2 separate regions of the Homo sapiens genome follow, and region 2 is linked to region 1. The links come from fine-mapping of genetic effects on gene expression. Tissue or cell type: whole blood. Region 1 holds a variant in brackets; the other region holds the start of a gene. All regions are shown on one strand. Distances are from middle to middle.

Evidence for each region. PIP is the estimated chance that this variant, and not a neighbour inherited with it, causes the effect.
Region 2: SLC25A38 starts here. The variant in region 1 is fine-mapped to the expression of SLC25A38 in whole blood (TOPMed, PIP above 0.99).

Annotation. Positions count from the first base shown.
Region 1 is chr3:39,433,859-39,441,966 of GRCh38, reverse strand. No RefSeq gene overlaps it. Among named protein-coding and RNA genes, the nearest start is that of SNORA62, 27 kb to the right of the region's middle. The variant T/C (reference allele first, on the strand shown) is at 3,847.
Region 2 is chr3:39,378,467-39,386,574 of GRCh38, reverse strand. It overlaps SLC25A38 (solute carrier family 25 member 38), which reads right to left and starts at 3,205. Exons shown (of 7, transcript NM_017875.4): 1 at 2,782-3,205. The coding sequence starts at 2,850. LOC105377037 (a long non-coding RNA gene) reads right to left here. Exons shown (of 3, transcript XR_001740661.3): 3 at 5,423-5,648. It overlaps LOC105377644 (a long non-coding RNA gene), which reads left to right and starts at 2,250. Exons shown (of 3, transcript XR_007096252.1): 1 at 2,250-2,334; 2 at 3,531-3,622; 3 at 5,455-7,144. RefSeq lists enhancers at 1,997-2,066, 2,537-2,586, 2,597-2,696, 2,717-2,896 and a silencer at 2,157-2,306.

The sequences.
Region 1 (8,108 bases):
TTGTTTAGTGTCTTGATTTCCTTTCACTTCAAACCAGTCAGGATTTGTGAAATAGAACAGAAGGCTTCTGTAATATTTGTTTTTCTAGAAGTTTGAAGATAGAAAATGCTTTAAGTAGTCAGTGCTTTAGATCTGTTCCTCTGGCTTGTGGCTTTAAAGAATTCAGATGTTGCATTTCTTTACTCTTTGTTTAACAAGTCTAACTTATTGATTATACTATCAGTATTTTCAGTTCAGCCAGATCTTGTTTTCTAGGAATATTTGAAAAAACTGTGGCTGCAAAGGGCTCTTTAGCTATAGAAAACATAATGTTTTAGCATGTATTAGTGCTTCCTTAGGCAGTCATTCAAATTATTTTGCATGCTCTGAGAATACATTAACTTGAAAATAGAGAAAGAGTTCCAGATGTTGAGTCTACAGAGTTACGCCAGGAGCAACCTAGGATTTAAATTTTTTCCACACATATTACATAGAATAAAGAATATGAGCATAATAACTGAGAGCTGGCAACACAACAATGTAAACAACTGCAATTATGATTTTTTCAAGAATATCTTTAGGACTGGGTGCAGTGGCTCACGCTTGTAATCCCAACACTTTGGGAGGCCGAGGCGAGTGGATCACCTAAGGTCAGAAGTTTGAGACCAGCCTGGCTAACATGGCGAAAACCCATCTGTACTAAAAATACAAAAATTACCCAGGCGTGGTGACACATACCTATAATCCCAGCTACTCGGGTGGCTGAGGCAGGAAAATCGCTTGAACCCGGGAGGCAGAGGTTGCAGTGAGCCGAGATTGCACCACTGCACTCCAGCGTGGGGAACAGAGTGAAACCCTGCCTCAAAAAAAAAAAAAAAAAAAAAAAAAAACAATCTTTAAAGCAAATACCTATTATATATTTTTCTTTTTATTAGAGTTATCAGCAGGTGGTATTTCATTTTTGTTGAAACTTTAAAAAAAACAGAAAAAAAAAAAAGACAAGGTCTCCGCCGGGCGCAGTGGTTCACGCCTGTAATCCCAGTACTTTGGGAAGCCGAGGTGGGTGGATCACGAGGTCAGGAGTTCCAGACCAGCCTGACCAACATGGTGAAACCCTGTCTCTACTAAAAATACAAAAAATTAGCTGGGCATGGTCGTGGGCGCCTGTAATCCCAGCTACTCGGGAGGCTGAGGCAGAGAATTACTTGAACCCAGGAGGCGGAGGTTGCAGTGAGCCAAGGTTGCACCACAGCACTCCAGTCTGGGCGACAGAGCAAGACGCCGTCTCAAAAAAAAAAAAAAGACAAGTTCTCACTCTCCCACTCAGGCTGGAGTGCAGTAGTGCAGTCATAGCTCACAGCAACCTCAAACTCCTGGGCTCCAGCGATCCTCCCGCCTCAGCCTCCCAAGTAGCTGGGACTACAGGTATGCACCACCACACTGCCTAATTTTTAAGTTTTTGTAGAGACCGGGTTTCCCTGTGTTGCCCAAGCTGGCCTCAAACTCCCAGGCTCAAGCAATCTTCCTACCTCAGCCTCCCAAAGTGTTGAGATTATAGACATGAGCCACTGCACTGGACAATGTTTTGTTTTGTTTTGTTTTTGAGACAGTCTCACTCTGTCGCCCAGGCTGGAGTACGATGGCGCAATCTCAGCTCACTGCAATCTCTGCCTCCTGGGCTCAAGTGATTCTCCTGCCTCAGCCTCCCGAGTAGCTGGGACTACAGGCAGCTGCCACCACGCCCGGCTAACTTTTGTATTTTTAGTAGAGACGGGGTTTCACCATGTTGGCCAGGCTGGTCTCGAACTCCTGCCCTCAAATGATCTACCCACCTCAGCCTCCCAAAGTGCTGGGATTACAGGCGTAAGCCACTGCACCTGGCCTGGACAATGTATTTTTTAATAATAAAACAAAAATATGTTATTCTTCCCACTCTCCAAAGAAAACTGTCCAAGCTGCCATATGCAAAAATGGAACAAAAAGCTGCAGAGAAAAGAGGAGAGTGTCTGTGAAGTCCTAGAAGGGAGAGTGATCAGGGACCCTCAAGGTGAGCTGCATGCCTAGAGGGTAGAATTTTAATAGGAAGAAAATGGAATGAATCTGGAGAGGGAAGCAGGAGAAAATGATGACATTGTCTGCTGGTTTCACAGAGGGTTTAGTCCCAAAGCTGAGCAAAGGTGATTTATTATCTGAAATTACTTAATTCTGGCCATTATTGCCCTAGTAATTAGCAAAAAGTTTGGCTCATTATGGGTTCCCAGTTGCATAGATTTGGGGTAAATGAATGATTGAATCAATAACTATTACATTATTATATAATCCATAAGCTGTAGGCCTTACAGTTTTTTCAATCACAACATTAAGCATCCTCTCGTTACAATGATTATCTTCTGGAGCCCACATTAGATTAGCATGGATGATGAGAAACATGCACAGTTCAAGGACTCATAAAAAACAGCACTGACCTGATGTGACTGAGAAGAGCTCCCCGAGTGTGTGGGCCATCTGAGCAGGCTTGGAGGCCGGTGTAGTCAGAGGTTTTTCAGACCTCGACAACCTTTGCTCTACCCTGCAGCCTGACCCCCATATGAAATTTTTTAGAGACCTTGTCCCATCACCTGTCAGCTGCTGTTGAAGGCACAGCTAGGGAGAAATGAACCAGGCTGCATTAGTGTGATCCATGCCTGGAAGTGCAATGCACAGAAGGCTTTGCCCTTCTTTTCAGAGGTGCAGGTACCAGTCTTCATCCTGCCTCCATGCAGCTGACTGACCCTGGGAGGCAGCCTTACTTTCTTCGCTGGTTCCCACATGAAGTTTTATCAGATCATTTGGGGAACTCTGTTGCCCGGTCATCCACGTACTATTTGGGAGGAAATAAAACTTGGAGATCACATAAACAAATCCCTTATCTTGCAAATAAAGTGAAACTCTCGGAGGCCTACCAGTTTCATTTTAAATTCTGACAAAATATGCAATGTTTATAAATAAATCATTGCCATTGTCTGGAATTGAACTTGACTATGGCTGTCTTTCTTTCTTTCTTTTCCTTCTTCCTTCCTTTTTTTTTTTTTCTTTTGAGACAGAGTCTCACTCTGTCACCCAGGCTGCAACCTCTGTCTCCCAGATTCAAGCTATTTTGTGCCTTAGCCACTCAAGTAGCTAGGATTACAGGCATGCGACACTACGCCTGGCTAATTTTTGTATTTTTCATAGAGACGGGGCTTTGTCACATTCCCAGGCTGGTCTCAAACTCCTGACCTCAAGTGATCCACCCACCTTGGCTTCCCAAATTGCTGGGATTATAGGCGTGAGCCACTGTGCCTGGCCCCTCCCTCCCTCCCTCCCTTTCTTCCTTCCTTCCTCCCTCCCTCCCTCCCTCCCTCCCTCCCTCCCTCCCTCCCTCCCTTCCTTCCTTCCTTCCTTCCTTCCCTCCCTCCTTCCTTCCTTCCTCTCTTCCTTCCTTCTTTTCTTTTCTTTTCTTTTCTTTCCGGAGTTTCATTCTTGTCGCCCAGGGAGGGAGGGAGGGAGGGAGGGAGAGAGGGAGGAACTTAGGGGGAAAAAGGACAAATGAATGATGATTCTCCATTCTCACTCAACAGATAGCAAAGATAACATTAATCTTTTATGTATCCTGCTGCAGTAAGCATGTTTTGTACATTATGAAACTGTTTTCCAAATAGAAAAGAAGGTGTTAGAAGGAGTGCTTTTGAGTTCGTTAGTCACTGCTCTCAGCTAAGCAGTAAAAGCTTTAAGTCCTTGAGGAAGGGCCTATTGGTGGAAGCCATTCCAAAGTTCCAGACCAAGCAGGAAAGAATCCTGCCATAAGATTGTCTTTGGGAGACAAACTTCAACTGTTTCCTAGCAGCC[T/C]ACCCTGCAGATTTTGGACTTGTACCCGCACATGAGCCAATTCCTTAAAATAAAGGACTTTTTAAGCCAAATCCTTAAAAAAATATTCCCACACCAAGAGCAGGCCCATTTATTTTATTCCTTATTTTAAGGAGTAAAAATCTATCTAATCTAATCTATCAAAAATGTTCAAAGTGACCAAGTTAATAATGGCCAAAAACTGGAACAGTCCAAATGGCCATTGCAGTACACTGATGTCATGAAGACCCTGCAGGAGCATGGTGACCAGGAATGAAAAGCACAGAGACAACACTGAGGGAAAGAGGCAAGTCACACAAAAAGATGTGCAATTATTCCATTTATAGGAAGGTGAAAAACCAGCTGGCCCAACTAAAAAATGCCAAAGAGTCTGAATAGACAGTTCTCTAAGACATACACATGACCAATAAGCACACAGTCATCAGGAAAATGTAAATCAAAGCCATAATGAGAGAACACTCACACTCACTAGCCTGCATAGAATCAGAAAGACAGATAGTAACAAGTGTTGACGAGGATGTGGAGAAATGGTAACCCTCATACACTGCTGGTAGGAATGTAAAATGGTATAGCCACTTTGGAAAACAGTCTGGTAATTCAAGTGGTTAAACATAGAGTTACCATATGACCCAGCAATTCCACTCCTAAGTATATATGCAAAAGAAAGGACAATGTCCACACAAACACTTGTACACTAATATTCATAGCAGCATTGTTCATAACAGCGAAAAAACAGAAACAACCCAACAAATGTCTATCAAATGACAAACAGATTTTTTTTTTTTTTTTTGAGGCAGAGTCTCACTCTGCCACCCAGGCTGGAGTGTAATGGCATGGCCTCAGATCACTGCAACCTCCACCTCCCAGATTCAAGCAATTCTCCTGCCTCAGTCTCCCAGGTAGTTGGGATTACAGGCATGAGCCATTACGACCGGCTAATTTTTGTATTTTTAGGATAGACAGGGTTTCACCACATTGGCCAGGTTGGTCTTGAACTCCTGACCTCAGGTGATCCACCCACTTCAGCCTCCCAAAGTGCTGGGATTACAGGCGTGTGCCACCACGCCCAGCCAACAGATTTTTTATTTTTTAATGTAATATATCAGCCAGGCACAGTAGCTGATGCCTGTAATCCCAACACTCTGGGAGGCCGAGGTGAGAGAATTGCTTGAGCCAAGGAGGTTGAGGCTGTAGTGAGCTATGATCGCACCACTATGCTCCAGCCTGGGTAAGAGAGCAAGACCCTGTCTCAAAAAAGAAAAAAGTAGTATATCCATACGGTGCAGTATTGTTCAGCCAGAAAAAGAAATAAAATATCCATTCCTGCTATAAAGGACCATATGCTGTATCATTCCATTTAGGCATGTATGTAGAGACCAAAAGTAGAAGAGTGGTTGCCTAACTGCTAATGGTCATAAGGTTCCTTTGTGGAGGAAAATATTCAAATTGATTATGGAGGTGATTTCATAACTCTGTGAATATATTAAAAACTACTGAGTTGTACACTTTAAATGGGTAAGTTGTATGGCATGTCACATGTCATATGTCAATAAAGTTGTTTTTTTAAAAAAACAGGAAAATAAAACAATGTATGAATTGAAGAGGCATACTCAGGTGATAAAATGATAAAGTCAACCAAGGTGTCAAAAGAACAAAAACTCTACGACCTCAGGGAGGAAGGAAATATCAAAAACAGTTCAACACATAGCATTATTTTAGAAAATTATGTATGTGTGCGTATATATATTTATATACTTAAACTCTATGAGGATATATCACATACTTCTTAGTTATATGTGGGTTGAGATCTTCTAAATTGTATAATAAGTGAATTTCAAAAATGACTCAAAAGTCTTCTGGTACCTGCAGATGGGCCTGCTCTTGGTGTAGGAATTTTTTTGCGGGGTGGCTGGAGGACGGAGTCTCACTCAGTTGCCCAGGCTGGAGTGCAGTGGCATGATCTCAGCTCACTGCAACCTCCACCTCCCAGGTTCAAGTGACTCTCCTGCCTCAGCCTCCTGAGTGGCTGAGATTACAGGCATGTGCCACCTCACCCGGCTAATTTTTGTGTTTTTAGCAGAGACGGGGTTTCATCATCCTGACCAGGCAGTCTCAAACTCCTGACCTCAAGTGATCAGCCCGCCTCAGCCTCCCAAAATCCTGGGAATGCAGGCATGAGCCATCGCGCCCGGCCATGGTGTAGGAATATTTCTGAAGTTTCAGGGAAAACATCTCCCCTCACCAGGCCCTGTGTGGATTTGTTGATGCCTGTGGCACAGGGAGTCTCTTGATACACCCTAAGGGGGTCATGGAGTCTTCTCCCCTACTGATGGAGAGCTGGAAGACACACTTGTCTCAATTTTCTCTCTTCTACATTTGTCTAGAGTCTGTTTGCAGCAGGGAAGAGGCCTCTGAATGCACTTCTGTGGGTCATTGAGAGATCTAAAGAAATAACTTCAGCCCTGCCGGGCAGACATGGCCCCCACCACACCTCCCCTCCTATTATGAGTCACAGAGACAGGCCCAGAGCATTAGTGGGGGTGCAGAGGGGCCTAACACCCTTCCCAGGGGCTGTTGGGTACCTGGGACAGATGCTTGCACCCCCACACACTGGTGCAAGAAGCTCCCACCCTTCCAGACAGCTGGCCTGACCAGCTGGAGCTGAGAACCCCACCCTTCTCAGAAATCCCTGCCACCATTCCTCAGGGCTACTGGACCAGCTCCTTGGCCAACAGCCTCCACACTGGGCCTTCTCTGCCACATTTAAAAACACCCCTCTAGGAATAACAAGTGTTGCTTTGAACCCCTCTGAGTAGTCACCCTCCTCTCCTGACTCAGATCCTGTGAATTTCCCACCTGCCTCTCACAGATGCACACTGGCCTCTCCACAGGGTTCCTATAAGGATATTCTCCCTGGAGATGAGTGTGACAGTTGATGTTTTCCAGAACTTCCTGTGCTTCACCTGCTGCCCCAGTATGGTGCTCTTTTGAGACAAACAACACAATTCTGATGTTGGTAGCAAAAGCACATGTTTATTTCCCAGCCAGAGCCAGATAGCAGCCTCCTTGGATGGGATGGGAACTAGCTAAAATATCACATGGGACATAAGGGCTCAAGGGAGAAGGGGGAGGCCTGAAGAAACGAGGAGATGCTGGGGATCCAGAGGAGGCACCACCAGGCAGATGCAGGAGGTAGAGAGAGACCAGCACCCCGCCTACTGGGGGTTCCCCAAGAGTGCCTCTCTCATCCCCTGGGGGCACGGTAAGCTCAACCAAACCCCACCAACCACACCCTCCCCTTCTACTATGAGTGAGTCACAGAGACAGGCCCAGAGTATTGGCGGGGATACAGAGGGACCTCATACACACACATTCATGAAATAAACATCTCCTCACAAAAATTCAGGGATCCAGCTCCTCCCCGAGCCCAGCCCTGTCTTGCCTGAGATCAGAGCCCTTCCCTGAGGCCTCAGGCATTACAATCCAAGTCAGTGTCCCCTGAACCCAGTCCTACCTTACAGGAGGGGCTCTGGCTTTATCAACACCCCTACCCTACCACACCTCAGAAGGCTAAACACCTCCTTTATGTCTTCCCCCAACACCACACCTCTCAGACTAGCACTGTGGAATGGACCCAGCGAAGGAGGAGAAGAGCAAATGAAGTCTCAGTCCTCCTGGGTGAGGTGGGGGCAGTGAGGGTGGCGGGTCTCTTCCCTGTGAAAACCTGAGGACTGAGAAAGTAAGCAACTTGGGGCCTGTTGGGCAAAGTCACCTCTCCAGGAGCCTTTTGGGCAGCACTGTGAGCTTGTTCTTGGGAAAGGCAGCATCATCTCTCTCCTCCGCTCCACCAGAGGCTCCACCTGGGCTCCTGCCACACCCACGTCTGCGACACTTTCCCTCTCCACTAATTGGAGGCCCAAGACTTGCAGGGAAGCAGAAGACAGAAGATGTCTCTCAGCTTCCAAGTGGAAGCACCCAGTCTCATCACTGGAATTTGAGCTTTCTTGATTTGGGGTGCACCTGGAGAATGAGCAGGGGGCACAGGCCTGTTCGGGGAAGGACAGGAGGGGTGTTCCAGGGTTCAGTTTATAATCGTGAAGATCTCCCTGTTTTCCTTTCTTTCTTAGGGACAGAGAATTCAAAACTCTCAGCCTTTTGCAATGGTCGGCAAGGGTTTTGGTGTGGACAGAGGGGCCGTCATCAAGGAGACCCACATCCCACTGCAGGGATTGGCCTGGAGAGGA
Region 2 (8,108 bases), 55 kb after region 1:
GAGACAAGGTCTTGCTCTGATGCCTAGGCTGGAGTGTAGTGGCACAATCATGGCTCACTGCCAACCATGACCTCTCAGGCTCAGGTGATCCTCCCACCTCAGCCTCACGAGTAGCTGGGACCACAGGTGTGTGTCACCGTGCCCAGCTAATTTTTTTGTAGAGACGGGGTTTCGCTATGTTGCACAGGCTGGTCTCAAACTCCTGGACTCAAGCAATCTGCTCACCTCTGCCTCCCAAAGTGTTAGCATTATAGGTGTGGGCCACCATGCCCCGCCTGAGTCATCTTTTAAAACTGCAAATTTGATCATGCTGCTTTCAGAAATAAAACCCTTCAATGAAAGATAATGTTTTGTGAAATTTGAAGTTACTAGCTTAAAAACAAGACCAAAAAAAAAGATGGAATAAAAATACAAGTAATGACAAATGTATTAGGAGCTACAGAGTATCCCACAAATTTGTCATTAATACTAATTGAATTATAATTTTAAAAAACCCAACCAAACCAATACCCTTTAATTGGTTCATATTCCTCTCAGGATAAAGTCCAAACTGCTGGTTGCAGGGCCTTTCATGTATCACAGGGCTCCTGCTAACCGTTTTGGCCTATGTTCTCACCCTCCCACTAACACACTCTGCAGCCATACTGGAGGACTCCGCCTTACTTTCACCTCTGAAAACTCTGACATGTTGTTATGCCCTAGCACCGGTCTTGCTCCCTAACTCCCCCATGTCCAAGTTCAGTGCCTCTCCTTCCGGCTTCTACAGCAACACCTGTCCCCATCTCCCTTATGACTGCGTGTCAAAGACAGAATAGTCACAACTCCTGCCTGTCTTGTTCATGGTGATATCTCAAGAACTGACCTCGGAGCCTGGTGCACAGTAGGTGTTCAGCAGTGACAGCGGAATGAATCTTACCACCTAACAGGAAACCTTATGCTCTCCCTTTGAGCACAATCCCACATGATAGGGCTCGGTGGGCCCTGCATGACTCATCCCAGGATGGGTTAATCTCCCCCACCTCTCTCCAGGCCCCTTGCTCCAGCAAGGCTATAGGAATGACCTGCAGTTAGTTTCTGGGCAGTTATGTTAGGCGCTGCTTCCCCAGTGCTCACACAGGTGCTGTGTGGAATTTGTTTTAAAACAAATTTGCTGCTGTCCTTGACCTTCCCACCCTTGATTGCAGGAAATATCTTCTTAACGTCTTTTATTTCACAGCACAGTGATTAGACATGTTATTGGCTCAAGTTATTGAGCCAATAACTTTTTTAGCTTTGTACTTTTCCCAGTCCATTAGCACAGAGCAGATGTTATTTATACTAGCAGTATAGATCAACTTCTAATAGGCAAAAACAAGACAACAACAACAACAAAAACCATCCCAACAGGTAATACTGAATGGTCTTAAGATTTTTGTCAATGGTGAATGGCACACATCCTTTGCGAGTGAACTTAACTTTTAAAAAGTAGCTCAAGGCCAAGCGCGGTGGCTCACACTTGTAATCCTAGCACTTTAGGAGGCCGAGGCAGACGGATCACTTGAGGTCAGGAGTTCAAGACCAGCCTGGCCAACATGGTGAAACCCTCTCTCTACTAAAAATACAAAAACTAGCCGGGCGTGGTGGCGCACGCCTGTAATCCCAGCAACGTGGGAGACTGAGACAGGAAAAATACTTGAACCCGGGAGTCAGAGGTTGCAGTTGAGCCGAGATCACGCCACTGCACTCCAGCGCGGGCGACAGGGCGAGACTCTGTCTCAAAAAAAAAAAAAAAGAAAAAAGAAAAGAAAGCTCAAAAATATATTCAAGGTAAATAAAAAAGTAGTTTCTTTTTAAGGGGAGAAAGAAGAGGGCATAAACAATAATACGCACACGAAATAAGTAGCACATAAGAGTACAAACTGGATCCACAAGCAATTCCTACTGCCCTGAAAAAACTATCCTAAGTCCAATTCACATCTGGAGGCGAGGGCTGGAGAGCCCTGAAAAAGGTAAGCAGGTTTTCAAAGACGTCAACGTAAAGTCGCCACCGCCGCCGTCTCCGCCTTTAAGGATTAAAAAAAAAAATAAAAGCCGCCCCTACCTCGGGCGCAAGACCTCAGAGGGAGAGCTGCGGCAGCTGCAGTGGCCTCAGGCCTTTAGCGTCTAAAGACTGGTTGCACCCCGACTCCACCTACCGGGCAACCACGCCGCCAGCCCCGCCTCCGCCTCCACCAATAGCGGCCCGGCGGCCCGGGCACGATGACCAATCGAACGCCGGAGGAGGCGTGGCGTCGCTGGGGGACCACGCGCCGTCCCAACAGGCTGGAAGGGTGCCGCCACGACTGGCCCCTCCAGGTAGGCCGCCGCCCGCGGGCGCACAGCGCTACCCGGCCAGCTCGCTGCGGCATCAACGGCTTCTCAGCGTCAGCGCTATTATCAGGCCTTGTGACCGTCCCAAATCTGCCCGGGTGCCCTTCCACCTGGCAGCCTACTCGCACCTTGTGGGGGCCGCGCGGGCACACTCCCCGGCACGCGTCCAGTCCAGGCCCCGGCAATTCCGCCCTTTACCGGGACATCGGCCCTACAGCGCCTGCCCCCAGGGCTGGCCTGCAGCTCCTGGCCTCTCCTCACTCCCTGCCCCCTTCTCAATTCCCTTAGTCAGACTCCTCTCCCGCCGCATCCTAAATCCTGAGCGCACCCTGGGGCGCGGAAAAGGGTAGCCGAGCCTTAGCAACGCCCCGAATTCTCCGGCCCGAGCCCGCGGTTCGGACCCCTGCCCTTCCTTCCCCGCAGTGCCCTCACCATAAGCGTTTCCACCGTGTCTCCGACATCTTGGGGTTGCAGCAGCGACGGACGTGAGTTCTGAATCATTGGAGATGAGGCCCGCGAGTCCTCTGGGCCCAGGGTGCCGTCGACGGGCGCTTGGGCCCAGCCCTGGAGGCCTTGAAGAAGGCTAGGGGGTGGCGCTAGCCAGGCGACGCGCTTTAAGCCGCGGGCTCTCTGACGTCTGCGCCTATAAGCACGCAGCCGCCGGGGTTCGGATCCTGCTAGTCCAGGGGCTGCGGGCGCGGAACAATCTTGCTGCGGGAATTACGCGCCGCTCTTCACCCGCGCCGCAGACTCCGCGGCTCTGCTCTCCTGCCCATCCTGCCCTGCTGCAGGCTTCAGCACCGTAGGAGATGAGGTTCTGTGTATCCCGGGGTGGAGGAAGCGCCGGAGGAACTCTGTAGAAGGGGAGATTTCGCTTCCGGGTGGGACGCTTGTCACGTGAGGGTGTTCTGAGTGCCACCTGGTGAAAACGCCCAGAACTGAAGGATCCGCGCTTCCTTGCACCCAGAACTTAATGGAGCGTCTGCAGGGAACTTTGCTTTTGCGTGGAACGTCTGAACGTATTTACAATCCAGACCTGGTCTGCCCAGTAAGGCAGCCACTAGCCAACGTGGGCTATTGATTTATTAATTGATACATTAATTTTAATTATATTAAAACAAGCAGTGTGGAATGCTTTCTCCTTAAACAGGCGTTTTTTTGTTTTGTTGTTTTTTTTTCAGGACCATATTTCCCTTTAAATGCTGAAAATTTAGTGTGGAATTGATATGTACTGTATGCATAAACCACACGCTGGATGTCTAAGACTGGTGAGGTAAAATCTCAATAATTTTTATATGTTGAAATGATATTTTGGATATATTGGGTTAGGTGAAATATTAAAATTAACTTCAGGCCGGGGGCAGTGGCCCAGGCCTGTAATCTCAGCACTTTGTGAGGCCTAGTCTGGAGGATTGCTTGAGGGAGCCAAGGAGTTGGAGACCAGCGTGGACGACAAAGCAAGACCCCGTCTCTAAAACAAATAATAATAACTTCATGTGTTTCTTTTTAAATGTGGCTAGTAAAACATTTAAACTTTAACATGTGGCTCCCATTACATTTCTGTAGGACAGCGCTGGTCTAGTTGGTCAAAATTCTGGTTTATTGCTCACCTGGAATCTGTCAATGGCTTTTTTGGTCTCCCAACTTCCCCTTATGCCTGTCTGGCTGATCCATGGAAAAGCATTACTGCTGGGATCCTGACACTCCTGTTGAAAATGCAGTGGCCCTGGTAATAAAGTCCAAGCTTTTCATAGCAACCTTCGCTACTTTCCACCTTCATTCATCACCCAAGAACTAGATCAGAAAGGAAAGTGACTTAGGGAGCAAGATAATATTTTTTCAGGCTTCATTCCTGTGCTTCTGAGGTACATAGAACAGGAAGGAAAGTGGTCCCAGAGGAGGTTATTCCCAGAAAGGATTAAGGAAAGTATAAACATTAAAAAAAAAAAAAAAATTACAGGCCGGGTGCGGTGGCTCACGCCTGTAATCCCAGCACTTTGGGAGGCCGAGGCGAGCCGATCACGAGGTCAGGAGATCGAGACCATCCTGGCTAACATGGTGAAATCCCGTCTCTGCTAAAAATATAGCCGGGTGTGGTGGCAGGCGCCTGTAGTCCCAGCTACTCGGGAGGCTGAAGCAGGAGAATGGCGTGAACCCAGGAAGTGGAGCTTGCAGTGGGCCGAGATCGTGCCACTGCACTGCAGCCTGGGCGACAGAGCGAGACTCCATCTCAAAAAACAAAACGAAACAAAATTACAAACCTGCCTGGTGATTGAATACTTTGCTACCCTTTGTTCTAAGCTGCAAGGCTTATTTTTCTTTGTGCAGTAGTGATGTTGATAACTATGCACTGAAACTTCTTTTTAAAGGAAGACCTAATTCCACCCTGACACCCACCCCCGCTGCACTGATTCCATAAGACAAGAATCCCTACTTTTGAGAAATCATGGGTTGGCGTATTTTAGAGACTGCTCTTGGCCACTCTGGGTGTGGGAACACAGGTGGGATCTAGAGTGAAAGCCGGCCCTCCACTCCCTCACCCTTCCAGGTATGCCTGCTTGGCTGTGGGCTCAGAAGAAATGGGCTGGCTTTCAAGGGTGGCAGCTGGCAGATTTCCCTCCTCTGTATCTGCTCCTGCCATGCTTACTCATAACTCTAAAGCCCACAGGCCCTTCTTTTCCCACATCTCCTCCCCTGGATGTTTGTGGGGATGCAGAGATATATAATGATCATGGGGAAAGAGCATCACCCATTGGCAGATGAGTGGGGGGTTTGGAGCAGTACTTAATGGCAAAGTTGGAGGAGTGAATTTTTTTTTTTAAAAAGAAAACATTGTGACTTTAATTCAAAACAAGGTCATTAGCATAAGGCAAGCCTTAATGGATTTATCTGCAGTCAAGGGAAGGTGATTTGGCTCTTATGACCTAACTTCCCTCAATTACACACTGGTCCCTCAAAGATCCAAAGTGGCCCATGTTTTCTGGATTGTATGATCAGGTTACATGATGTTTTCCCATCCCAAGGATTGTAGACACCCTCTACCCAGGAAGAAATACACATGTATCAGTTTGGATACATGACCTCCTCTTAAAACTTTATTCACAGCAAGTCTTGACATCTGGAGGAGTTTCCACCATCCAAGAAGGAAAAGGCAAAGGTCCACATGGGAAGCTGGAGGTGAATGGGAGAGACAGAGGCTGCTCAGATAGGGGCTTTGGTTTCCTGTCTGCCTGTCAGAGCAGGAGGAGGTGGGCCTTGCAGCACCTTGCATCTGCGTCACTTCATTTGTAAGAAGATGGCTGGAATGGTGAAAAGCACACAGGTAAATCACTGCCCCCACCTCCATGTTTCCAGCAGACCAGCTCAGCAAGATCTTTCTACCTGCCTGGAGCCAGAGCTGCTTCTGGAAATATCTAAATTTTCTCTTCTACTGATGCCAAAACAATGAGGCCAGCCTTTGCCTTTTGGAAACCAATAGGGGATTGAGAGGGGAGATACCATGCATTCTCTCTGCTACAACCTCCCTTACCGCCCATCTTCATCAGTCTCTCTATGCCTACTGGCCTCTCAGGTCTAATGGGCATCTTATGATAGTCTTCGTCCTGTAACTAATGGAGGCTCCTCTCCATCTGAATATCTGCTCCCATCCTAAACATGCACAACCTGAAAGAGAAGCCTTAAGAGTCTCCAAGGGCACTGTCTTCACCAGTGGGGGAAGCCACTCTTTGCCTGATCACAAGAATGGGTGAATACTGCAGAAAAAAAGGGAATTCTAATGGCTTTACCCAGAAACTTCCACAAAGAGGATGGTCCTGTCACTGCTTTTGGCTTCACAAGAAGGAAACACCTTTCTTCCTTCTGTGCCAGTGACTATTGCCTGTAACCTCACCCCTGAGCCAAGGGTGACCAGGCTACGAGAGAACAATGAGTTAGAGCGGCTTACAAGCTGGTATCCGAGGGAGGGGCAGATGGCTCTGTGGGGTGGACTGCGTTCCTGCAGGAGTGGGATCTTCACATTCTACTCCAAGGACCAAGTTGTTAGGGGCAGTGGAAGGGAGAGGAGCCATGGTGCGTGCCCAGGCAGTGTGGTGTTTTGTGTTTTGTCATATGGAAGCCACAAGTCACTCCATCAATATTTTGACAAAGCAGTTCCCCATCTTATGGAAAAAATCAAACTCTTCTTGTTTTCCTGCTTTCTTCACAATGAGGAAACGGGCAACATTTTGGCTAAAAGTTTATAAACATAAGCACATATTTTCTGGTCACAAATCTTCTAGGTCCTGATTGATCTGAATTTCCCACAGGGGTAAGCAGGACCCACTTGTGGTTTTGTGGTTTGCTTATAGCTCTATCCATATGTGGAAGGTTTTTTTTTTTTTTTTTTTGGAGACAGAGTTTCACTCTCGTTGTCCAGGCTGGAGTGCAATGCTGCGATCCCGGCTCACCACAACCTCCGCCTCCTGGGTTCATGCAATTCTCCTGCTTTAGCCTCCTGAGTAGCTGGGATTATAGGCATGCGCCACCACGCCTGGCTAATTTTGCATTTAGCAAAATTAGCAAAATGTTGGTCAGGCTGGTCTCAAACTCCCGACCTCAGGTGATCCGCCCACTTTGGCCTCCCAAAGTGCTGGGATTCCAGGCATGAGCCACCATGCCAGGCCAGCTTTTCTTTATCTTGGACAGAATGACTTCATTTATAAGCAGCATCTTGTGTAACAGTCAGTTTTATGTGTCAACTTGGCTAGGCTATAATACCCAGTTTTCAATTAAACACTAATCCAGGTGTTGCTGTGAAGGTATTTTGTAGATGTGGTTAACCTCTGTAATCAGTTGACTTTAAGTAAAGGAGATTATCTTTCATAATCTGGATGAAAGAAAATCAGGACACATATTTCCCTGACAAATACACCTTGTTTCCCTTCCTTAAAGGGTAGAGGCTATCTCCTGCTTTTTTCTGTGTGTCTTTGAGAGACCACTGAGGCAGAGTAATGCTGTAAAAAGAAAGTGGACTTTGGAATCAGGCATTGATTCTGTATTTGATCCTGGATTTGTCACCTGCTAGCTGTGTATTCACCTCAACTTTCTTGTTTGTTATTTTGAGATAAGTCTTGTGCTATTGCCCAGGCTGGAGTGCAATGGTGTAATCTCAGCTCACTGCAACCGCCGCCTCCCGGGCTCAAGTGATTCTCCTGCCTCAGCCTCCTGAGTAGCTGGGATTACAGGCGCACATCACCACGCCCAGCTAATTTTTGTTTTTTTAGTAGAGATGGAGTTTCACCATGTTGGCCAGGCTGGTCTCAAACTCCTTACCTCAGGTGATTGCCTGCCTCGGCCTCCCAAATTGCTGGGATTACAGATGTGAGCCACTGCGCCTGGCCAGTTTATGGGCCTTAATTAGAGGTCAAGAGTGAAGCCTCCCATATATAAAATTAAATACTTAGGGTAGATTCAGTGGCTCCGGCTTGTAATCCCAGCATTTTGGGAGGACGAGACAGCAGGATCTCTTGAGCCCAAGAGTTCAAGACCAGCCTGGGCAACATAACAAGACCTTGTCTCTACAAAAATAAAAACAGTAGCCAGGTGTGGTGGAATGAGCCTGTAGTCCCAGCTACTCGGAAGGTGGAGGCAGGACAGTCTCTTGAGCCCAGGAGTTCAAGGCTGCAGCAAACTATGACTGCACCACTGCACTCCAGCCTGGGTGACAGAGCAAGACCCTGTGTCTATGTTTTTTTAATTCCAAATACTTACCAAACATCTGC